Linked DNA regions of Homo sapiens: regions 2 and 3 are each linked to region 1. Evidence: fine-mapped expression QTL. A gene starts in region 1. Each other region holds a variant in brackets. All regions are shown on one strand. Distances are between the middles of the regions. Region 1 holds the start of NCBP3 (nuclear cap binding subunit 3). Region 2 overlaps ITGAE (integrin subunit alpha E). Region 3 overlaps NCBP3 (nuclear cap binding subunit 3).

Evidence for each region.
Region 2: its variant is fine-mapped to the expression of NCBP3 in whole blood (TOPMed, PIP above 0.99).
Region 3: its variant is fine-mapped to the expression of NCBP3 in whole blood (TOPMed, PIP above 0.99). The same link has a PIP of 0.9 or more in blood mononuclear cells, monocytes after LPS, monocytes after Pam3CSK4 and tibial nerve.

Annotation. Positions count from the first base shown.
Region 1 is chr17:3,842,823-3,851,004 of GRCh38, forward strand. It overlaps NCBP3 (nuclear cap binding subunit 3), which reads right to left and starts at 3,424. Exons shown (of 13, transcript NM_001114118.3): 1 at 3,219-3,424; 2 at 264-329. The coding sequence starts at 3,401. RefSeq lists silencers at 3,123-3,412, 3,593-3,712.
Region 2 is chr17:3,737,349-3,745,530 of GRCh38, forward strand. ITGAE (integrin subunit alpha E) reads right to left here. Exons shown (of 31, transcript NM_002208.5): 19 at 6,141-6,269; 20 at 2,457-2,530. Among named protein-coding and RNA genes, the nearest start is that of HASPIN, 18 kb to the left of the region's middle. RefSeq lists an enhancer at 447-741. The variant C/T (reference allele first, on the strand shown) is at 3,583.
Region 3 is chr17:3,818,994-3,827,175 of GRCh38, forward strand. It overlaps NCBP3 (nuclear cap binding subunit 3), which reads right to left. Exons shown (of 13, transcript NM_001114118.3): 5 at 7,094-7,222; 6 at 6,774-6,850; 7 at 5,949-6,057; 8 at 2,960-3,059; 9 at 2,256-2,359. Among named protein-coding and RNA genes, the nearest start is that of ITGAE, 22 kb to the left of the region's middle. The variant G/A (reference allele first, on the strand shown) is at 3,926.

The DNA.
Region 1 (8,182 bases):
TTTCGTAGAGACGGGTCTCACTATGTTGCCCAGGCTGGTCTCGAACTCCTGGGCTTAAACGATCCACTTGCTTGGCCTCTCAAAATGCTAGGATTACAGGCATGAGCCAGCGTGCCTGGCCAATAACACAATTTTTTTTAGAAAAAAAATTTAAATCCAGCAACAAAATAAAAGAGGAAATATTTACTGTTATGTCCTAGGGATCAAATTCATTAAGTTCACTTGCTTATCAAGCTGAATAAATAAATCATAGCCTGTCTTACCTTGGAGGTGACATCAATTCCAGTGATGAAGCTGCCAGCCTTGTTTTCATATCTTCTGCTCGTGTCCTAACACAAAGGGGAAGGGTGAGAAATTCAGACAGCAATTGAGGAAAAACCTATAATAAAAGTCGGCCTGACATCTGCAGGTTCTTTTTTCCTTTTTTTTTTTTTTTTGTTGGTGACAGTGTCTTGCTCTGTTGCCCAGGCCGGAGTGCAGTAGAATGATCACAGCTCACCGCAGCCTCGACTCCCCAGGCTCACGCCATCCTCCCCCTCAGCTGGGCCCTCAGGCATATGCCACCATGCCCAGCTAATTTTTTTTTTATTTTGTAGAGACAGGGTCTCCCTATGTTGCCCAGGCTGGTCACCAACTCCTGGGCTAAAGCAGTCCTCCTGCCTCAGTCTCCCAAAGTGTTAGGATCACATGTGTGAGTCATCACAACCAGTCTGGTTCTTTCTGTTTTTCTGTTTGTTTTTTGAGATGGAGTCTCACTCTTATCGCCTAGGCGGGAGTGCAGTGGCACAAACTCGGCTCACTGCAACCTCTACCTCCTGGGTTCAAGCGATTCTCCTGTCTCAGCCTCCTGAGTAGCTGGGATTACAGGCATGTGCCACCACCGCCAGCTAATTTTTTTATTTTTAGTAGAGACGAGGTTTCACCATGTTGGCATACTGGTCTCAAACTCCTGACCTCGGTGATCCGTCTGTCTCAGCCTCCCAAAGTGCTGGGATACAGGCATGAGCCACCACACCTGGCAAGTCTGGTTCTTTTTGAATAGCCACTCTTTTCAAAACCCTTCCCCACCCCTGACAACCTTTTATTAAGAAGCCCCATCCTAGTGATTCCATGGTATCAATCAACCACTCCAATAAGAAGATCAGAGCCTGTCCAAAAACTGAAGTGATTCCATCAACTCCAAGTATCCATGTAAAGAAAATCTAAAGGCTTTTGTGGAAAATGTCAAAAGATAAGGCACAGTCACTTAGCTCCCCAACCCAGTCTGAACGAATTCCTCATGCCCAGCCACCAGGTGGAGCACAACCCTCCACCTCAACGCAGAAGGTCCAGCCTCACCTAGAACTCCTGAGGCAAATACAGCACAGTGCAATGCAAAGGGGATGGGATTTGGAAACCAAGCGAGGACTGAAGCCTCAGCTCTGACAGTCACTAATTACAGGACACTGTATAGTTTTCTTGACCTCTCTGGGTCTCAGTTTCCTCTGTGGTATCTACCTGCCTTCCTGACCTCTTTTACTGCCCTTCCATTAGTACTACAGAAGTTTCCAACAATCCTGGACCCATCCCAGAGCCTCTGTGCTTGTTACTGGCCCTGCTGGGGGAACTCCTTTTCAATCTTCACAAGATTGGCTTTTTGTCATTTAGAGTTTATATGGAACATAAACTCCAGGAGGGAGGTTGAGCTTGATCAAGCACCTAGGGCTGTGCCTTGGTACATAGCGGGGGATGCAATAAATACATGTTGGCCGGACGCAATGGCTCAGGCCTGTAATCCCAGCACTTTGGGAGGCAGAGGCGGGCGGATCACCTGAGGTCAGGTGTTCGAGACCAGCCTGGCCAACATGGAGAAACCCCGTCTCTACTAAAAATACAAAATTAGCCGGGCACGGTGGCACATCCCTGTAATCTCAACTACTTGGGAGGCTGAGGCAGAAGAGTAGCTTGAACCCAGGAGGCGGAGGTTGCGGTGAGCCAAGATCAGGCCATTGTACTTGGCTACTCAGGAGGCTGAGGCAGGAGAATGGCTTGAACCCGGGAGGCGGAAGTTGCGGTGAGCCGAGATCGCGCCATTGCGTTCCAGCCTGGGCAACAAGAGCGAACTCCGTCTCAAAACAAAACAAAACAAAAACCATGTTGAACTGAATGACTAAAGGGATGATAACACCTGCTTCACAACTGCAGTAATATTTATTTATTTTGGTTTTGTTTTTGAGATGGGGAGAGGGGAAAGGGGGGACCTCAAAGGGGTCTTGCTATATTGCTGAGGCTGGTCTGGAACTTAGACTCCTGAATAGCTGGCACTAAAGGCGTGCACGGCCAGTATATTTAAGTGACACAATATAGTGAATGGTAAATGCTACTATATTAGCTGTTGTTAATCATAATTATAACGTTTGCCATCTCTAGCGATCATACTTTAACCTTTCTCCATAACTTCAGTCTAAATATGTTGACATGTGGTCAAAAGTAATTCATGTTAGGTGAGAAATTAAGAGGAGTCATCCAGGCCTGAAACCAGCTCTGAGAACTGGATATACAGCCACCAAGTCACAAGCAAAACACCTCTCACCATCCCCAGCGCGGTAAAGGAGGGACCAAGGATGTCTATTGGTCGTCTGCTAGTTTGCTTTCATTAAGAGTCAGATGCTGGGGCCACGGTGTAGGTGTCACTGGAGCTGCGGGGGGGGCAAGATGACCCCGAAGTCACGACAGAAACAGTGAGTTTCTGCTGCTGACAAGTGCAGCCCTCTCAAGACAAAGAGCGAGTGCCATGTTTCCCAGATACAAATTCCTCCGGGGCAAGACCCACAAGGAGACCTGGTTGCTGGCGCCACCCAACAGCTCCTTCTGGGCTGCCCCTGGTTCTGTTCCCGCCCAGGGCTCCCCCTTTATCTCATCCTTCCAGCCCCTCCTCACTCACCTCCTTGCACAGCGCGGCTCAGAGGGGGCAGCGGAGGGGGGTCCTCAACTCCCTCCCAGCTCTCCGCCACCACCCCCCAGCCCCCTCAACACCCATTTCCGGCGCCCCGGCGTCCTTTCTCCCGCTCCGCGTCCCTCCTCCAGCCCGGCGTTCCCGTTCCCAGGACGCTGGCTCCCTCCTCTCCCGCTCCCTTGACTTCCCCGGCTGGGGCTCCGGCCACCGCCCCTTCCGGCCCCCTCCGGCGCTAGACACTAGCCCCGCGACCTCTTCCTTACCCCCCGACCCCCGCCCGTACCGGGATCAGTTCCTTGAGCGAGCGCCGCACAGGCACGATTTCCAGCTCGCCCTCCTCCACCTCCATGGGCTCCGGCTCGCCACGGTCAACACCGGACTCCGCCTCAGGGGACGGGAGCCCCAGGGCCGGCCCCGCCGGGGCCTCCGCCTTCACCGACACCCGCAGGCCCCGTACGGCCGCCATCGCTGCCTGCCGGCCGCACCACTGAGAGCCCGCCCCTCACGGCCGCCGGCTAGAGCGCCGCTGCCACTGGCCACAGAGGAGCCGCCGCAGCTACCTAGAGCGTCGCCGGCTTCGGCCCAGAAGGCCGCCCTTAGCGCCGCCGCCCCCTGGTGGCGGGAGAAAACCGGGCCGGCTGCGCGGGCGGGACCTGGGGAGGAGAAGGCGGGACTGAGCGGGGACGGGGGCGGGGCCTGCGGGAACTACGGAGCTTGGAGGAGACCGGGGTAGTCAAGGGTTACAATGTAGCTACGCCTTGAGGCTAAAGCTGTACTAAAAGCCAACTTTCCTGAGTGATCACTATGGGCCAGACACTTCCAAGCGCTCGAACCCTTAGAACAACTCTATGAAGTAGATCCTATTTTGACCCCCATTTCATATATGAGGAAACTGAGGCATAGAAATTGACCCAAGGTGACGCCATTTAAGGGATAAAAGCTGGATCTAAGTCTTCCAGAGTTTACAATGAGCCTTGATATATCACCTCTGGACAATCTGTAGGTTTATAAAGTTACTTGCCTTGCCAGTCTTTGTCTCTTAAAAGTCTCCCCAAAATTGGCCCATGTTACATACACAAAAATTGAGACTCCAAGAGGGAGAGACCTGCCCAAAGGCCAGAACTTGGACGCCGATTTCCTGACTCCTGAGGGTGCCATCCACTGTAGACCTGTGAGCATAGTTTCCGGCGGATATTTCTAACGAGAGCCTGGTGGGGGAGAGGGGTTGTCTACGCGTCCCGAGGGTGTCACTGATCAGCTGCTGTTCTGAGTCCTGATTTTCTTTTTCTTTCTTTCTTTCTTTCTTTATTCCTTTCTTCCTTCCTTTCTTTCTTCTTTTCTTTCTTTCTCTTTTCCTTCCTTCCTCCCTCTCCTCTTTCTTTCTTTCTTTCTTTTTTTTTTTTTTTTTTGTAGAGACAGGGTTTCACCATGTTGACTAAGCTGGTCTCGAATTCCTAACCTCAAGCGATCCACCCGCCTCGGCCTCCCAAAGTCTTGGGATTACAGGCATGAGCCACCGCGCCCGGCCTGAGTCCTGATTTTGCATCTTCCTCCCTGGGTAACCTTGGACAGGTTTTTGGGTCTGTTTTCCCATCTGAGGAGGGCATAGGTGAGACCCTACAGTCTCTGAGGCCCTGAGGCCCTACCAGCTCTGACCATGGAGGAGCAAATAATGATAAACCAAGGAAGAGCATGGTCAGCATCAGACACACCTGGGTTTCGAGCTGGCTGGCCGGGCCCCATCCACCATGTGTGACCTTAGGCAAGCTGCTTAGCACTTTGGAGTCTCAGTTCCTTCATCAGTAAAATGGACCATTACCTACCTACAAAGGAGGTTGTGAGGGTTAAATGTGATAATTTATATGTAGATACAGGGTCCAACAGAAGGGGTGCAGTACATCACAGTTTTTCTTAAATTTGGGCTAAACCACAGGATAAACACAAGACAGAGCTCTTTAGAGGACTAGTTTTATTTGATGAATGGGACACAAAGTACTTTTAAAAATTGGGTTGAGGCCGGGCACGGTGGCTCATGCCTGTAATCCCAACACTTTGGGAGGCCAAGGCGGGCAGATCATGAGGTCAGGAGATCGAGATCATCCTGGCTAACATGGTGAAACCGTGTCTCTACTAAAAAAAAAAAATTAGCCGGGCATGGTGGCATGCACTACTTGGGAGGCTGAGGCAGGAGAATCACTTGAACCCGGGAGGTGGAGGTTGCAGTGAGCCGAGATCATACCACTGCACTCCAGCCTGGGCGACAGAGCGAGACTCCGTCTCCAAAAAAAAAAAAAAAAAATGGGTTGAATGCATACATAGAATATGTACGGGTGTGTGTGTGTGTGTGTGTTTAATTTCAAACAAAATGTGTAGTTGGGGTGGCCAGCTATAGGTAAGAGTCACAGCCCCCACCATTACTAGGCCTGTGGGGTTAGGGGATGGGAGAGGAGGAAGTAATCCCTCCTCAGCTATGGACACCAGGAGGCCAGTAGAGAAGGCTGGGCAGGCCCCTCACCCTGCTGGGGAGGATGCCTTGTTGCTTGAGGACGCAATTCGGTGAGGATTCAGTGTTGCAGTTCAGTGCCATCCAGAAGAGCCCCAGCACCCTGGCACACCAGCCGGCAGGTACATGAGGAGTCCAGGACAAGCCGGGACATCAGGCAAACACCAAGGCTCCTAGGCGCGTGTCAGGAAAGCCCTCTGTGCCTTGCTCTTTGTGGTCACCTTAGTCACCATCTCCCATCCCCTTTCCTGTTCGCGATGCAGCCTGCTGAGTTGGAGACACAGAGAATTTAGGAAGGTGGTAAGGGCTGATTTTCAAAAAGTTGAAAAACATGACTCTCAAACAGATGTAAAATGAACACATGTCAAAGCTGTTACCCAGTCATTAGAAAATGAGGAAACCAGTAGAAATATGAAGAATAGTTTGAAGGGGAACTTGAATGAATATGTGGTTGGTCAGTCAAAGGAATGCTGAGATGAATTTGACAAGGCAAGTTAATGTCCTGTAAGGCAAGAAACGATAACCTCCAGGACTCCCTTTACCACCAGACAGAAAACATTTGCATTACTACTGGACAAGAATTATTTACTTGTTATAAATTTTCTTTTTTTTCTTTTTTTGAGATGGAGTCTCGCTCTGTCACCCAGGCTGGGGTGCAGTGGTGTGATCTCGGCTCACTGCAAGCTCTGCCTCCCGGGTTCACGCCATTCTCCTGCCTCAGCCTCCCGAGTAGCTGGGACTACAGGTGCCCACCACCACGCCCGGCTACTTTTTTGTATTTTTAGTAGAGACGGGGTTTCACCGTGTTAGCCAGGATGGTCTCGATCTCCTGACCTCGTGATCTGCCCGCCTCGGCCTCCCAAAGTGCTGGGATTACAGGCGTGAGCCACCACGCCCGGCCAAATTTTCTTTTTTCTTTTTTTTTTTTCTTTTTTTGAGATGGAGTCTCGCTCTGTCACCCAGGCTGGAGTGCAGTGGCACGATCTCGGCTCACTGCAACCTCCGCCTCCTGGGTTCACGCCATTCTCCTGCCTCAGCCTCCTGAGTAACTGGGACTACAGGCGCCTGCCACCATGCCCAGCTAATTTTTTGTATTTTTTTTAGTAGAGACGGGGTTTCACCGTGTTAGCCAGGTTGGTCTCGATCTCCTGACCTTGTGATCCACCTGCTTCAGCCTCCCAAAGTGCTGGGATTACAGGCGTGAGCCACTGCACCCAGCCACCTGTTATGAATTTTCTATAAACCTCTACTCTCAGTTGTAAAATACCCTAATCAATAGTGCATAAGAAGTCAGACAAAGCTATACATCTGTAGAGAATCAGATGGTTCCCCAGGCAGATAACACCTGGCACAGTACCAACAGGGCATTTTCCTTTTTCTGTTTCCAAAGTCTGGATATATATTTTTTTTAGATGGGAGTCTCACTCTGTTGCCAAGGCTGGAGTGCAGTGGCACGAGCTTGGCTCACTGCAACCTCCCCCTCCCAGGTTTTAAGCAGTTCTCTGCCTCAGCCTCCCGAGTAGCTGGGATTACAGGCACGTGCCACTATGCCTGGCGACTTTCTGTATTTTTAGTAGAGACGGGGTTTCACCATCTTGGCCAGGTTGGTCTTGAACTCCTGACCTTGTGATTCACCTGCCTCAGCATCCCAAAGTGCTGGGATTACAGGCGTGAGCCACTGCGCCCGGCAAAAATTTTTAATTAATAGAGAAAATCAGGGGAATGGGACATTGGGACAGACTGGAGAGAGAGTTTTAAGAAGGGAGTGATCAAGTGTCATGTTCTGCCATAAGTTCACGATGGAACTTGTTTTGGGTCTAGAGGTTTGCTGGCCATTGGTGACTTTGAGGAGAGCAGAGTCCATGAAGGGGAAGGCACATTAGTGGGGAGATTTGAGCCAGTGTACACAACTCTCAGGAGAAGTAGGCTAGAGGGCAGGGAGGATATTAACAGGCTCTTCTAAAGGGTTCCTTTTCTGTGATTTCTTTCATTGAAATTGGTCACTCCCTCTCCTTTATTTATTTATTTATTTATTTATCGAGACAGAGTCTCACTCTGTCACCTAGACTGGAGTGCAATGGCACAATCTCAGCTCACTGCAAGCTCCGCCTTCCGGACTCAAGCGATTCTCCTGCCTCAGCCTCCCAAGTAGCTGGGATTACAGGCATGTGCCACCACGGCCGGCTAATTTTTGTATTTTTAGTAGAGACAGGGTTTCACCGTGTTGCCCAGGCTGGTCTTGAACTCCTGGGCTCAAGAAGTCTTCCCACCTTGGCCTCCCAAAGTGCTGGGATTATAGCCGTGAACCACCACACCCAGCCCTCTCCCTCTGCTTATTCCTTCCTCTCTTACCCAGCAAGGAGGGGAATAAAAATAATGGAATCCTACTTCCCCTGGAGTGGCACAGGGAAAAGCCGTGGAAAGGTAATGTGAGCTCCTCAGGAGAAATCAGATGCTCCCTGAGGGCTGGTAACCTGGTGCACTTGCCTGAGCTGATGCCCTGCTGATTGAAGCAGGGATGTTCTTTAGTGCAGTCTGAAGCTGGGTGCCCGCGACCTGCACGCCTCACACTCCTCGGTTCATGAGTGTCCTTGCAACATGCGCACGCCCATCAGTCATTCAGGAAAAGCTTCCGTGGTTGAAGAAGAGGTCATGAGGCAGCTGACCCTGGTGGGGGCACTGTATCTATGTGCCCCATCCACTGCCTAGCTAAATTCTTGTTTTTGTTTGTTTGTTTTGAGGTG
Region 2 (8,182 bases), 110 kb before region 1:
ACAGTAAAGCAAATGAAACGAAAAAGAGGCAGGGGAGGGGGGACAGAGGAGTTAAGGGCAAGTTCTGAGTTTCTAGCTCAGGTGGCTGAGTGGTGCCGGTGGCTGAGTGGTGCCGGTGGCTGAGTGGTGCCATTGACTGAGGGAGGTAACATGGGAGGAAGACCCAAGGGTGGAAGAAGATGCGTTCAATCGGGGACATGACAAGAGGTGCATATAGGATAACAAAGCAGAGATGCTGACATGTCAGCTGGACACACATCTTAGAGCTCAGGCGTGAGACCTCAGTGTCATCAGAATATTAACAGCGTTGCCTAATCTGAGGCCTAGGGACCGTCTCAGAGGGCCCGGAATGCCAAAATTTATGTATGCACATGTGATCTTCTAAGGAGAGGGGTCTGTAGTCTTCATTAGATTCTTTTGGGGATCTATGTCCTCAGGTCAAAAACCACTGAGACAGCTGGACACCGACGACCAGGCTCACTAGCGTTTTTGAAAGAGAAGCGTTTGCTTGCTATGTACACTAGGGGGCGATGTAGGGCAAGCCATGCGTGCTGTATCTCTACTACCCCCAGTAGCTGGCTGGGAGGTTGGTTCTTGGCTGTAATTAATTCCCTGCTGGAAACAGCTGTGCCTGCTTGTTAGCCTGGATTCCAGAGCATTTGAAAGTCTTCAATTGGTCCTGCAAATGTCTATGAAAGGGCTGACCAGGACTTGGGGAACTGCGTTCTTCCCCATATACGGCAACTCCAGCCAGCTGGCCAACAGAATCACAATACATACACAACACTAGTCGCCAAGGACGCTTGTTTGTTTTGTTTTGTTACCCTCCCCCCCTCCCCGTTTTTGGAGTCTTGCTCTGTCACCCAGGCTGGAGTGCAGTGGAGCGATCTCGGCTCACTGCACCCTCCGCCTCCCGAGTTTGAGCGATTCTCCTGCCTCAGCCTGCCCAGTAGCTGTGATTACAGGCGCCCACCACCATGCCCAGCTAATTTTTGTATTTTTAGTAGAGACGGGGTTTTACCATGTTGACCAGGCTTGTCTCAAACTCCTGACCTCATGATCCGCCTACCTCTGCCTCCCAAAGTGCTGGGATTACAGGCATGAGCCACCGCGCCCGGCCTGGGGGGCATTCTAAGACCACTACATGTCTAAACCCACACTCATGTGCTTGGCAACACTGTCATTCTGGAATTCAGTGTGGTCCAATAGAACGTCTGCAGCGATGGAGACAGGCGGTATCTGCGCTGCCCAACACCACCAGCCACAGGCGGCCACTGAGTCTTTGAAGTGTGGCTAATGTGACTGAGGAACAAAATGTTTCATTGTGATTAATTTTAACTCATGTACATGTAAACAGCTAAGCGTGGCTGGTGTGTTGGACAGTGCAGTGCCGCATGCTGGGGCTGTGGCCCTCTTTCCTCCCTCCGCCTCCATTCTGTCAGCACGTGCTACGTATGAGCTGTCACTTTAAACTGTTACTCCCGTCATGGCCCAGCCCACACCGCCTCTCACCTGAGTGGTTACAAAGGGAGCAAGTGCCGCTTCTCTTCTCAGCTAAGCAGCAAGAAGGATCCTGCTAAGCTGCATGAGTGTGTCACTCCTCTGACTTCCCAGCTCACAGCAAAAGCCCTTCTGAGGGCTTAAGAAGCCCCATGGCCTCTTCCCCCTTCCTCCCCTTCCCTCATTACACCCCGCCCCACTCCACTGCAGCCACTAGCTCCTCACCCTGCCCCCCACCCACCAGGCAGGCTTCCAACCCAGGGTACCTGCAGCTGCTCTTCCCTTAGACACCCAACCACATAGCTCGTTCCCCTACCTCCTCCAGTGTGTGCCAAAGTGTCACCCTCCGTGACCACCCCATTGAAAACTTCAGCATCAGCTGCCACCCAACACTCCTTCCCACCTTCCCTGTGTCTTCAACGTTCATCTCATCAACATGGAATTTACCTACTTACCATCTTCTCCCCCTAAGAGCACCAGGAGGGCAGGGATTTTTGTCTGTGTTGTTCACAGAAGTATCCCCAGCACCTAGAGTGCTTGGCACAAAGTAGATGGTCCAGAAATATTTGATTGATTAGTTAATTTGGCCAAGAGGTGGGCCGGGAAAGAGGTTACCTCTAACTGAGGTAGAGGTCAGCCTGGCTGTGAAGAACGCTGGGTTCTGAATATAGCATTGTCCGGGATGTCAAGAGACCCAGGTTCAAGTCCACCAAATGGCCTATGCAGGGCCCTCGGCGACTGAGTCTGCTTCCTAATCTAGAAAGTGGGAAGACAGATCTCTGTCTTGCCTCCCTTCTGGGGTAGCTGAGGACATATTGAGATAATAAGTGCAGAAGCCATTTGTGGGCCACGGGGAGAGGGGAAGGGGATGTGCAGGGTGTCCTAATGAAGGAATTGCCCAGGCAAGCGTTCGGGAGAAGGTTAATCGAGGAAACTGACGGCTATGTCCAACTCACTGAGAGACGGTGGTGGCCAACTGTAATTCTGCGACACAAAACAGCTTATTCTTGCAGGCCTTCTCATAGGGCAGCTGTAACCAGACAGAGAGTCCCGATCAGCCCAGGCTCCGCCTTCCCCAGCAGCCCTGCCTCCGGCTCTTCTCCTTATAGGAAGTTTTGGGCTGTGCCTCCTGCTCACCCTGAGAAGTGCAGTTACAGGGAGGTGAGGGGTGCAGGCTGGGATTGTCCCCGAAGAGCAGGGACTGTGACATTCCTGGGTGACATTCCTGGATCTGTCCTATAACATGGGCACACTGTGACCCAGTCCTTTGACCAAGGTAAAAACTGGGGTGACCTTCACGGAATGTTAGGGGTGCCCATGACATTTACATCATGCGAATTCAGCAGCAACACACAGCTCACGACTTTGAGCATTCAGGGAGCAGACACCTACGCGAAGAGAAGCTTCCTTAGTCCTTTCGGATATAGGCAGAACAGCCCGGGCAGGAGTGGGGGATGCCTAGCCAAATATCGTCAAGGTCCAGGCCTTGGAGGTTCCTTCCTCATGGCTAGTCATCTGTTTTTTCGGTTGTTTGTTTGTTTGTTTTCAGATGGAGTCTCGCTCTGTCATCCAGGCTGGAGTGCAATGGCGCGATCTCGGCTCACTGCCATCTCTGCCTCCCGGATTCAAGCGATTCTCCTGCCTCAGCCTCCCAAGTAGCTGGGATTACAGGCATGTGCCACCACGCCTGGCTAACTTTGTATTTTTATTAGAGAAAGGGTTTCGCCATGTTGACCAGGTTGGTCTCAAACTCCTGACCTCAGGTCATCCACCCACCTTGGCCTTCCAAAGTGTTGGGATTACAGGTGTGAGCCACCGCGCCCGGCCTGGCTAGTCGTCTCTGTAAGCTAACTATTTCCCTTGCCTACACATAATCGACTAATTCTGAAAGCCACATTTCAAAAGGCCCCATGGAGGTTGAAAAGCTCCAGTTCGTGTTTTTAAAAATTCCAGTGTTCTAAAGTAGCTGGGTCTGTTTTTGTATTATGAAGGAAGGCAGCCAGCTCCTCGGCTGGAGAGCCTCTGCACTTCGCACTTCTCTCCCGGTGGCCACCTCGGCAGCTGTCTGCAGGTCTGTTCCCA[C/T]GGCCTAGAGGGGGAATGACAGCCCAGGGCTTGAAAGGGAACTTTCTACTTCCTGCGGAAGGGGGATGCCATTTGCAGAAGTCAAAGCGTGGCGCTCTCTCTAAGTGGGTCAACAGTTTCATGCAGGGTTTTTTGTTGTATTTTTTTTTTTTTTTTTTTTTTTTTGAGACGGAGTCTCGCTCTGTCGCCCAGGCTGGAGTGCAGTGGCGCAATCTCCGCTCACTGCAAGCTCCGCCTCCCGGGTTCACGCCATTCTCCTGCCTCAGACTCCCGAGTAGCTGGGACTACAGCTGCCCGCCACCACGCCCAGCTAATTTTTTTTTTTTTTTTGTATTTTTAGTAGAGACGGGGTTTCACTGTGTTAGCCAGGATGGTCTCGATCTCCTGACCTCATGATCCGCCAGCCTCGGCCTCCCAAAGTGCTGGGATTACAGGCGTGAGCCCCCGCGCCCGGCCTTTTGTTGTATTTTTAATATAGCCACATAGCCTGATCTCTTCCACCCAGCCCCAGTGAAAGAGAATGGGGTTAAGCCATCTAAACTCCCAGCCAGAACGCACTCTCTGGTAACACCGATGTGCCTAATACCACGTGGTTTTTTCCTCACCCATTTTATACGGGGAATAACTTTTTAAAAATCTCTTTGCCATAGCATAATAGTCATCACTGGTTAAGGAAAGACACATAAAGAGATGTTAAGCAGGATACAATCGCAAGGCATCTCACCATAAAATGAGACGTGCTTATTAATGACACAGGCAAACAGCACTAGGAATGGACAAGTCCACATTAGGTGCCTCCTGAGATGGTGTACTGAGAAGGACACACTTTACTTCTGTGATATTCCTGACAAAAATGCATAACCTGGCCAGGCATGGTGGCTCACGTCTGTAATCCCAGCACTTTGGGAGGCCGAGGAGGGTAGATCACCTGAGGTCAGGTGTTCAAGACCAGCCTGGCCAACATAGTGAAACCCCGTCTCTACTAAAAGTACAAAAATTAGCCGAGCATGGTGATACATGCCTGTAATCCCAGCTACTCGGGAGGCTGAGGCAGGAGAATTGCTTGAACTTGGGAGGCAGAGGTTGCAGTGAGCCGAGATCACGCCATTGCACTCCAGCCTGGGCAACAAGGGCGAAACTCTGTCTCAAAAACAAAACAAAAATGTATAACCTGAATCTAATTATGAAGAAATATCAGACAAATTGAGGAACATTCTACAAAAGGACTGGCCTGTACCCTTCAAAAATGTTAATGTCATTAAAAGACAAGGGAAGACTGAGTGAGAAACCCTTCCAGATTAAAGGAGACTAAAGATAAATAACTGTAGAACGCTATGAATGATCCTGGACCAGAACCTTTTTTTTCTTTTGCTATAAAGGACATTAATAGGACAACTGGCAAAATTTGAATAAAGTTTGTAAATTAGATAATAGTATTTTATCAATGTGAATTTCCTGATTTTGATTATTGTACTATGTTAAGACAATGCCTTTGTTTTTAGGAAATATATATTGAAGGTTTGTGGTTTTTTTTTTTTTTTTGAGACGGAGTCTTTCTCTGTCACTCAGGCTGGAGTGCAGTGGCACGATCTCGGTTCACTGCAACCACTGTCTCCCGGGGTCAAGCAATTCTCCTGCCTCAGCCTCCTGAGTAGCTGGAACTACAGGCATGCACCACCACACTGGGCTAATCTTTGTATTTTTTAAAATTTATTTTATTTTTTATTTTTTTGAGATGGAGTCTCGCTCTGTTGCCTAGGCTGGAGTGCAATGGCACGGCCTTGGCTCACTGGAACCTCTGCCTCCTGGGCAAAGGATTCAAATGATTCTCCTGCCTCAGCCTCCCTAGTAGCTGGGACTACAGGCCCATGCCACCACACCCGGCCAATTTTTGTATTTTTAGTAGAGACAGGGTTTCACCATCTTGGCCAGGCTGGTATCGAACTCCTGACCTCAGGTGATCCACCTGCCTCAACCTCCCAAAGTGTTGGGATTACAGGCATCAGCCAGGGCGCCCGGCTGACAAAAGTTTCTTATGACACTACCCGCCTGTCTAAGCTGCACTGATGGGCACCAGGAGGAGAGGCTAGGATACAGGTTTGGTGGGGCCATTCAGCCTGAAGGCCCTGGCAGGGCATGAACAGGCAGGTGTGCCAAAGGGCATCCTCTCTGCAGTGCAAGACACGACAGCTCCAGTCTAGCTCCCACAAGGAACCCCCATCACAGCGTCATCAGAGCCGCTTGCCAAGTGAGGTCCCCAGGATGCAATGTATGCATGTGCCTCATGAAAGATGTAGCAAGTGCTTTTGTGAACATAAAGACATAAAGGAACAAGCCCCAGGGGCAGATGGAGACCTGCGTTACCCATGAGTCCTCACTCACGGGGACACATTAACACCATCTCAGGGACTCAGTTTCACCATGAGTACGGTGAGGGGCCCAAATGCCGTCTGAAGACATTGCCTCCCAACTCCACCATTCTTGGAAGTTAGGGGAGCAGGTGGTTTCTGTGGGATAGGCTCTTAAGAGGGCTGGGTACTGGCTGTGGGTAGAGTCACCTGGAAGATGGCAAAGGGCTCAGTGTAGCGGTCCAGGATGGGCTGGGGATGGTCCGTCTGTCCCTCAGGGGTCTGGAGCTGGTAGCTGACTTTGACACTGGCATTGGAGAAGCAGTCCTCCTCACAGAGCTGTGGGGTCACCACGGAAGGCAGGGTTAGAGTTGGATGTGGGGGAGAAGATGACAACAATAATGCTTTTTTTCTTTTTCTTTTTTTCTTTTTTTTTTTTTTTGAGATGGAGTCTTGCTCTGTTGCCCAGGCTGGAGTGCAGTGGCGTGATCTCGGCTCACTGCAACCTCCGCCTCCCGGGTTCAAGCGATTCTCCTACCTCAGCCGCCCGAGTAGCTGGGATGACAGGTGTGTGCTACCACGCCTGGCTAATTTTTGTATTTTTAGTAGAGACAGGGTTTCGCCATGTTGGTCAGGCTGGTCTCGAACTCCTGACCTCAAGTGATCCACCCGCCTCAGCCTCCCAAAATGCTGGGATTATAGGCGTAAGCCACCGCGCCCGGCCTCTTTTCTTTTTTTTTTTTTTTAAGATAAGGTCTCACTCACTCTGTCACCCAGTCTGGAGGGCAGCAGCACCATGATGGCTCACTGCAGCCTCAACCACCTGGGCTCAAGCAATTCACCCACCTTGGCCTCCCAAAGTGCTGGGATTTCCAAATATGAGCCACCGCACCTTGCAAGAATACTTTCTACTTTGATGTCATCATAAGAAGAAATAAACAATAAAAGTGGTGAGTCAGAAGTCCTAAGCATCTTCCAAATAAGCCAGGCTGAAGGGACACGTCCTTCAAGCAAGCTGCCAAGTGCTTTGGGAAAAATCTCCTTCATTCTACTACGGTTTTGTGTCTATAGCTGCTATGGTTCTTATCCCAGTCACAAAGGGGTAAAGAACTGGCTCAGACAGAAGGGAAGAGTCACAGCCACACCTGGGTTTATCAAGTTCTTTCTCTTTTTTTTTTTTTTTTTTGAGATGGAGTCTCGCTCTGTCGCCCAGGCTGGAGTGCAGTGGCTCGATCTTGGCTCTCTGCAACCTCTGCCTCTTAGGTTCAAGGTTCTCCTGCCTCAGTCTCCCAAGTAGCTGGGACTACAGGTGCATGCCACCACGCCTGGCTAATTTTTGTATTTTTTTTTAGTAGAGACAGGGTTTTACCACATTGGTCAGGCCGGTCTCGAACTCCTGACTTCAGGTGATCCTCCCACCTCGGCCTCCCAAAGTGCTGGGATTAGAGGCGTGAGCCACTGCGCCCAACCAACCAAGATCTTTCTCAAAGCAACATGGAGGACATATTAGAGAGGTAAGAGAGAAGATAAGGAGATTGCTTAGCATACCATTTGCCACTCTCTTTGTTTAAATAAGCCTTTCTGCCCCTATAAGAGCCTCAAGCCCATGGGAGAAAGTGAGCATGATTCTCTGGTAGAGAATGTGATTAAGCCTTTATTTAAGGAAGGCTGTAGACTTTAATCCAATTAACAATCACTTTGGGGGTAAATGTGTATTCAGAAGAAGAATTCATGCATTTGTTTATTGGAATAAACGATCCATATAGATCCAAAGTTCGAGATCCTGTCAGGGTTTGAGTCCCGACATACTTTTTTTACCCCATGTCTCTGGGCACCTTTGCCAGGAGTAAACCTTTCTAGATGGTCGTTTCTATCTTTTTATTCTTCCTTTTAGTTGTTCACTTTTTTGATGCCAACTGACATTCAGGCCCTCGGTCCTAGTTATTATCAGGTGAGGTCTGATAACGCATGCCAAGAACACTGGCATTCCTGAGTTATTACCAAGAAAAACGTCAGCAATGACAGCATCTCCATCTTCCGTGCCATTACGTGGTTCTTGATTTATTATTATTATTATTTTGAGATGGAGTCTTGCTCTTGTTGGCCAGGCTGGAGTACAGTGGCATGATTTCGGCTCACTGCAACCTCCCTCCCCTGGATTCCAGCGATTCTCCTGCCTCAGCCTCCCGAGTAGCTGGGATTACAGGCACCCGCCATCACGCCCGGCTAATTTTTGTGTTTTTAGTGGAGAC
Region 3 (8,182 bases), 24 kb before region 1:
CATCTCATGCTGTAAACAAGCGTCTGTTTCAGTCCACCGAGTGGCACATTTTTCACACTTCTGTGCCTGCTGCTAGTGATTTCACTGCTTAAAATGGCCCTGAGTGTCGTGCCGAAGTGCTGCCTAGTGTTCCTAGATGCAAGGGGGCTGTGATGTGCCTTGTGGAAAAATACCATATCAGGTAAGGCATTCAGGCATGAGTTATAGGGCTACTGGCTGTGAACTCAATGTTAACGAATCAACAATGTGTCTTAAATAAGGTGTCTTAAAGAGAAACATATGGGCCCAGCGCGGTGGCTCACGCCTGTAATCCCAGCACTTTGGGAGGCCGAGGTGGGCAGATCACGAGGTCAGGAAATCGAGACCATCCTGGCTAACATGCTAATACCCTGTCTCTACTAAAAAATACAACAAAAATTAGCCGGGCATGGTGGTGTGCGCTTGTAGTCCCAGCTACTCGGGAGGCTGAGGTAGGAGAATGGCGTGAACCCGGGAGGCGGAGGTTGCAGTGAGCCGAGATCGCGCCACTGCACTCCAGCCTGGGCAACAGAGCAAGACTCTGTCTCAAAAAAAAAAAAAAGAGAGAAACATATGTAAAACAAGGTTACATATTGATCAACTGACAAAAATGATGTGGCCAGAGGCTATGTACGATTCAGTATTTGCTACTTCAGTGTTCACAGTGACTTTATAGAACATAAGCACCATGAATAATGAAAATGGAAAAATACAATAAACGAAAGAAGTAGAATATAAAGTACATGTTCCCAAGAGTTATACTATTTATTATGAAAACAAATGGGAAAAATGTAAGATGAACTCAGTCATCATACAGGGTACTAGAAATAGGGGCAATTTGCTTTTTAATTTCCTTAATATGGATATAAAAAGTATATGATGAAAATATTTTAAAGTAACTCAAATTGGAAAAGTGTAACTGTGTAACAGTAAAGTATGTGTATTATTATTATTATTTTGAGACAAAGTCTTGCTCTGTCGCCCAGGTTGGAATACAGTGGCACAATCTTGGCTCACTGCAGCCTTGACCTTCCAGGCTCAGGCAATCTCAGCCTCCCAAGTAGCTGGGACCACAGGTATGTGCCATCATGCCTGGTCTGGCTAATTTTTTAATTTTTTGTAACGACAAGGTCTCACTATGTTGCCCAGGCTGGTCTCAAACTCCTGGTTTCAAGTGATCCTCCTGCCTTGGCCTCCCAAAGTGCTGGGATTATAGGTGTGAGCCACTGTTCCCATCCTATGTGTATTATTAACATGTAGATCTCAAATATACAATTTTGTATATACACATTAAATAAAACATCTAGACTTCATCCCTTTCTGTCCCCATTACAATGATAAATGTGTGTATATGTTATTTTGTATGCTGACTTGACTAGTTCTATTAGGCATGTAGAAGATTCCATAGATTAGGCTCAAAACAAGAACAATTCTTTATAAAACATAAATAAAATGGTTCTTTTACAATAAGCACCAAAAAAAGGAGAAAGAAACCCAAGTCATGATATCCCACTCTTCTGAGGCATTCACATGCACAAACCAACAAGCACAAAGCACTCAACACAGCAGCCTATTTTTAATACAGAAAAAGAACAATACAATCAGTTCATCTGATAAAATAATTTCAAAAATTGTTTTTGGCTAGGCGCGGTAGCTCACACCTGTAATCCCAGCACTCTGGGAGGCCAAAGTGGGTGGAACACAAGGTCAGGAGTTCGAGACCAGCCTGGCCAACATGGTGAAACCCCATCTCTACTAAAAATACAAAAGTTAGCTGGGCATGGTGGCGCATGCCTGTAGTCCCAGCTACTCGGGAGGCTAAGGCAGGAGAATTGCTTGAATCCAGGAGGCAGAGTTGCAGTGAGCCGAGATCAAGCAATTGCACTCCAGCCTGAGAGACAGAGCGAGACTCCGTCTTAAAAAAAAAAAAAAAATTGTTTTCATGCAGCTGTTGATATTAATAGTAGAAAAATTAGGATCCTAAGGAAAGTTTTGTTTTAATTTTTCCTATGTCATATTTTGCCTTTTTTGATAGAACAGCTTTTATAAAATCATTTGACCTCTTTGGGCAACTTAAAATTAATTGTGACTTGACTTACTTTCCTATATGTTGGCAGAGGGTGAGGGCAAGGAAGAGAGGATGATAAAGTTTGGAACCTTAAAAGATTGCATTAAGAATAAAAATATGATTTCAGGAGCCAAACATGTGTCTACCCAAGAGCTGAGCAGGCAACTACCAGAATGTCGATGTTTATACGACGTCAAGCCAACGTCATCCCCAATCAGGGCTCTCTTCTTGATCACGTCCCGCTGAATACGACGGGAATGATATCTTCGCTTCCTGCAAGAATGCCAAAATAAGCACACAATCAAAAACTGATAGGAAGGACCTTGAAATCCACTATTTCTTTCTCTTTTCTTTTTTTTTTGTGATGGAGTCTCAATCTCTCTCCCAGGCTGAAGTGCAATGGCACCATCTCAGCTCACTGCAACCTTTGCCTCTTGGGTTCAAGCAATTCTCCTGCCTCAGCCTCCCGAGTAGGTGGGATTACAGGCGCCCACCACCATGCATGGCTAATTTTTGTATTTTTAGTAGAGACGGGGTTTCACCATGTTGGCCAGGCTGGTCTCGAACTCCTGACCTCAGGTGATCTGCTGGCCTCGGCCTCCCAAAGTGCTGGGATTACAGGCGTGAGCCACCATGTCTGGGCTCGCTAATTCATTTCAACTACACGTTGACACAATGTTAGGTACTAACACAGATATTTTAAATGTAACTACAATTCAGCATTCCCCATCATTTACCACATCTAAGAATCTTGAATTCTTCCCTCTTGTTTTCCTTCCAGTTTACACAGGGTTTAGACATTTCACCACGGAATACCAACTGAAGGATTAAGAAAAACTCAAATACTATTGCATTTGAAGGTTTTGGACTCACCATGAATTGCTAAGAATTCCTTTCATGCCTCCATAATTTGGATTCCCATATTTCATGTAATACTGACTTCTTCTGGCTGCTCCAAGTTCCTTTTTGTCATCTAAAAATTAATGACAATAGTTACCTAGGATTTCCTGTGAGTGTAAAGACAATGTTGAATTTTTTTTTTAATGTTTTCCATAGCTGGAATCAGATCAGCGCAATTTGCCAACAAAAAGTAAAAATCCACTACCAACATTCACACTCTGAGTGCCCACTACAGCAATGCAGTGTAGAGGGGATAAAGCAAAATACAGAGACGAATGAGGTTAAAACTGCTGTTTGGAGCCAGATGACTTAATGGAGAAAACAAAAATAAACAATACAAGATACAAGGTTCCAAAAGGCATAAAAGAGCTTTAGGTCATTACAGGTACCCAGGAATCAAAAAGACTTTCTCAAAATAGTGGCATTTTTGCCACCCCATGAAAGATGATATTCACTTCTGAAGGATCACATGCCAACAACACAGCATCAGGATTAAGGAAACAGACTACATATAATTCCATATATTTGGTAAATCATTTTTCCAGTTTATTGTGCTCCTCAAAATGGCTTAAAGAAAACAGCATAATACTATACATGTAGAATGTACTCAGCCACTCAAATGAGTAAATGTGGTAAAGATCACATTTGTCAAGTTGAAATGTCAGTTAACAGGAAAGAAAGGTGGTCAGTCATCATAAATTTTTGTCAAAAGTAGTAATACAAAGACCTTCCACAGTTCTTGGACACTCTGACTGTAAAGAACAAACACCACTGTAAATATATCCAGGGCTGTAGGTAAACGTGACAACACAAACCAGTATGTATAGCCCCCAACCCCCGAACCCCTCAAACCATGCCCACCAGCTCCTTGGAGAAATGGCTGATTCCAGATGTGGAGCAGGTAAGATGCAAAATGAGTCTGGAAAAGCAAGATGTTTT[G/A]TTGTGCCATAAAGAAAGAAAGTGCTTAAAGAATCATGGAGTATGTCAAAACAGCTTGAAGGGGCTCTACTGGCCAAATCCAAGACAATTTGTAAATTAAAATACTGATATTAGGCTGGGCGCGATGGCTCACGCCTGTAATCCCAGTACTTTGGGAGGCTGAGGCGGGCGGATCACAAGGTCAAGAGATCGAGACCATCCTGGCCAACATGGTGAACCCCATCTCTACTAAAAATACAAAAATTAGCTGGGCATGGTGGCATGCACCTGTAGTCCCAGCTACTAGGGAAGCTGAGACAGGAGAATTGCTTGAACCCAGGAGGCAGAGGTTGCAGGGAGGCAGAGGTTGCAGGGAGGCAGCGGTTGCAGTGAGCCAAGATCGCGCCACTGCACTCCAGCCTGGTGACAGAGCAACACTCCGTCTCAAAACAAACAAAAAAATAAATAAAATTAAATACTGATATCCATGGATGATAACCCACTGAATAAAGAATCCATGATTCTAAACTGATGTAAATAAACAAACAGGTAAAAACAGAAGGCTCTTCCTTAGAGCACCTGTCTACTGGTAAAGAAATGACATAGTCAGAAAGGCATGAAGCTCTGATGAGCAAGAGGCTATTTACGTGATCTCAAAGTATCTGCCCACCAATTTTTTATTTTAATCATTTTTTTATTTTTTAAAATAGGGATGAGGTCTTGCTATGTTGCCTAGCCTGGTCTCGAACTCCTGGGCTCAAGTGATCCTTCTGCCTCAGCATCCCAAAGTGTTGCAATTACAGGCACGAGCCACTGTAACCAGCCAGCCCACCAATTTTTAAATTACAAATGGAAGAATAGCAACTTTACAGTGGAAAAACCTAGTGATGATTACCTTAACCAAGTGAATAAAGTGAACGTCCCTAGGACTGGGACGAGTAAGTATCCAGGGCCTCCTGACATGATGCTCTGGAAATGACATGACATCGCTTCTGTGGCACGCCTGTCTCAAATGCACAACCCAAATTCAATCAGGAGGAATCATCAGACAAACCCAAACTGAGGGACATTGTATAAAATAGTAAACCTATATTCTTGGAAAACATGGGAGGATAGAAGTAGTTTCAGCTTAAGGGGGACTAAGGAAACATTACATACTTACACACTCAGTCCTGGATGGATCCTAGACCTGGGGCTGGGCGGGGAATATATAAAGGACATTATTGGAACAACTGACAAAATTTGAAAATCGACTACGGATTAGGTAACAGTACTGTATTAATGTTAAATTTCTTGATTTTGTTAAGTGTGCTATGTATAAAACAATGTTCTTATTCTTTGGAATACATTTAGGGGTGATGGGTTTTTATCTTCAACTAACTCTCAAATGATTAAAAAAACCAATATGTGTATATGTGTATAATACATATACATACATACATACATACACACACACATACACACACACATACACATACACACACATATACATACACACACATACATATATACACATACACATACATACATATACATACATACACATGCATACATACACACATACACGCGATACATACATACATATACATATATACACATACATACACATACATATATACACATACACACACATTTTTAAATGCCCACCAAAAGTCACCATGTGTAAACAATCTTATGAGAAGGGAATTAGAACCGAATGGTACACTGGCAATGTTCAGGAGGACGTTGCTGTAATAAATAAAGTTTCATTTGAAAGTTTTCATAATTCAGATGGTAACTGGCTGAAAATATATGAGGCAAACCAGTTTCAACAGAAAATAACTTTAGCCAGAAGTCACAGAAATATACAAATAGTTAATATTCACTTTTAAAGTCAGAAATTCCAACTCAGGTGGCAAGCAATTATTTCATAAGCGCAGAATATTATAGTTTGAAGGGAACTTTGAGATTACTTGATCTAACTTCTATTCAAAAAAGAAGGATGTCACTCCATAATAAATCATTTTGATTGAAAATATAAAACAATACCAAATATTACATTTACCTTTTGTAGCAAATCTCATGAATAACCTATTTCCTTTAGCAAGTTTGTTAGCTGGACGAAGATCGTTTCTTAACAAAGACTCCTCTTCTACCTGAGACAACGTATCCAACTTAAGAAAGAAGAGTATTTTTAATATAAAAATTAAAGTCCTTTTGATATTTCTTCAGTAGTAAAGCTACCATTAAGAAAAGCATTCTACCTTTAATACTTACAAGCATTATAGCACTAGTTCCGCTGTAGAATTTCTAACTCAGAGATTTCCCCTGCCCACCTTGTCTAAAAGAACAGTCTCCATCATTCTCTATCCCCTACTCTTTTCACAACACTCATTGCCACCTGACACAGTATGAGATATCTGTGCATCAGTGTATCCTCTGCACTCCCCACTAGAATGCAGGCTCCGAGAGGGCCAGGACTTTGTTTTGCTTGAAGCTATATCCCTAGCACTTAGAATATGGTATATAATAGGTACTCAGTAAATATTTTTTAAATGAATGCATGTTAATATTTTTAACAACAGTACATAATCCATTAGGAAGTATGCCATTACTTGCTGTTTCTTCATTTTACTAATTAGATAACACTTCAAAGTATTTCTCAATAAAACTATTTTCTTTTTTTGTAGAAGCATAAGCACTATTCTAAGATTTCAAGGTGAATCGCTATATCCACACTAACTTAAAGGACAAGAGCCTGGTGCACCCTCAGAAGGTCTAATGGTGAAAGCTAGAGAAAAAACGTAACTAAGTCTTTAAGGCTTAAGTTAAAAAGACAGTGAGCAATTTTTTACAATAACTTTACATCTATCTTTCCCCTATTACTAACCTCTACATCACTTGAGTTCTCATCTTCAACCTCTCCTTCTTCAGCTTCATCATCATCTGAACTGTCTTCCTGCTTGTCTAAAATGGAATGTGAAGGACAAGATGAAACAAGATAAAATATTTCATATAATGAGATACAAGATGAACTATCTCATATAATTTTAAAAGTCCAGTATTTTCTCCTATTTCCTGATGATCTCAAGCATCATAGATTAGTTCAGAAACACTTGGTGATGAGATGCTATATAGAGCTCTGCTCAGAAACAGGACTGTGTAAAGAAGAGGACTTTCAGACCCCAGTTCCCTCCTTTGTGTTGTTACCTTTTTTCCTTTTCTCAGCTGACTTGTCCTCACTGGCATCCCTGCTTCTGATCTTATCCTGTGCAGGCAGGGAGCTCATATTGATAAGTGCTCGTGTGGCTGTCATTTCATCCAGCCAAACTACATTACCTAAAATAAAATGTAAAATAAGACATTACACAGCATGGAAATGGTAAGCTTCTTGAGAGCAGATTCTGCATCGCATTCATCACTACAGCCTCATCTAGCAACAGATTATCATCAGTAAATATACAAACCAACTAATGAAGAGAAATATAGACCAGGCATGGTGACTCACACCTATAACCCCAGTACTTTGGGAGGCCAAGGCAGGAGACTCGCTTGGAGTGAGATCATCCTGGGCAACATAGTGACACCCTGTCTCTACAAAAAAATACAAAAGTCATGGTGGCATGAGCCGGTAGTCCCAGCTACTTGGGAGGCCGAGGTGGGAGAATGGATTGAGCCTAGGATATTGAGGCTGCAGTATGCCAAGGTCACACCACTGCACTCCAGCCTGGGTAACAGGGTGAGACTTTGTCTCAAAAGAAATGAAAAGTTAAAAATAAATAAAAAAGAAAGAAAGAAAGAGAAAGAGAGACAGAAAGAGAAGGAAGGAAGGAAGGAAGGAAGGAAGGAGAGAGAGAGATGAAAGAAAGAAAAAGAGAGAGAGAGAAAGCACTTTGGGAGGCCGAGCCAGGCGGATCACGAGGTCAGGAGATCGAGACCATCCTGGCTAACACGGTGAAACCCCGTCTCTACTAAAAATACAAAAAATTAGCCGGGCGTGGTGGCGGGCGCCTGTGGTCCCAGCTACTCGGGAGGCTGAGGCAGAATGGCGTGAACCCGGGAGGCAGAGCTTGCAGTGAGCCGAGATGATGCCACACTGCACTCCAGCCTGGGCGACAGAGCGAGACTCTGTCAAGAAAAAACAAAAGGAATGGAACAGAATGGAACGGAACGGAAAGGAAAAGGGAAGGGGGAAGGGTAGGGGGAAAGGGGAAGGGGGAAGGGAAAAGATGGAAGGGAAGGGGAGGGAAAAGAAAGAAAAGGGTAGTAAAATCTCTCTGATGAAATTAGCCTAGAGCT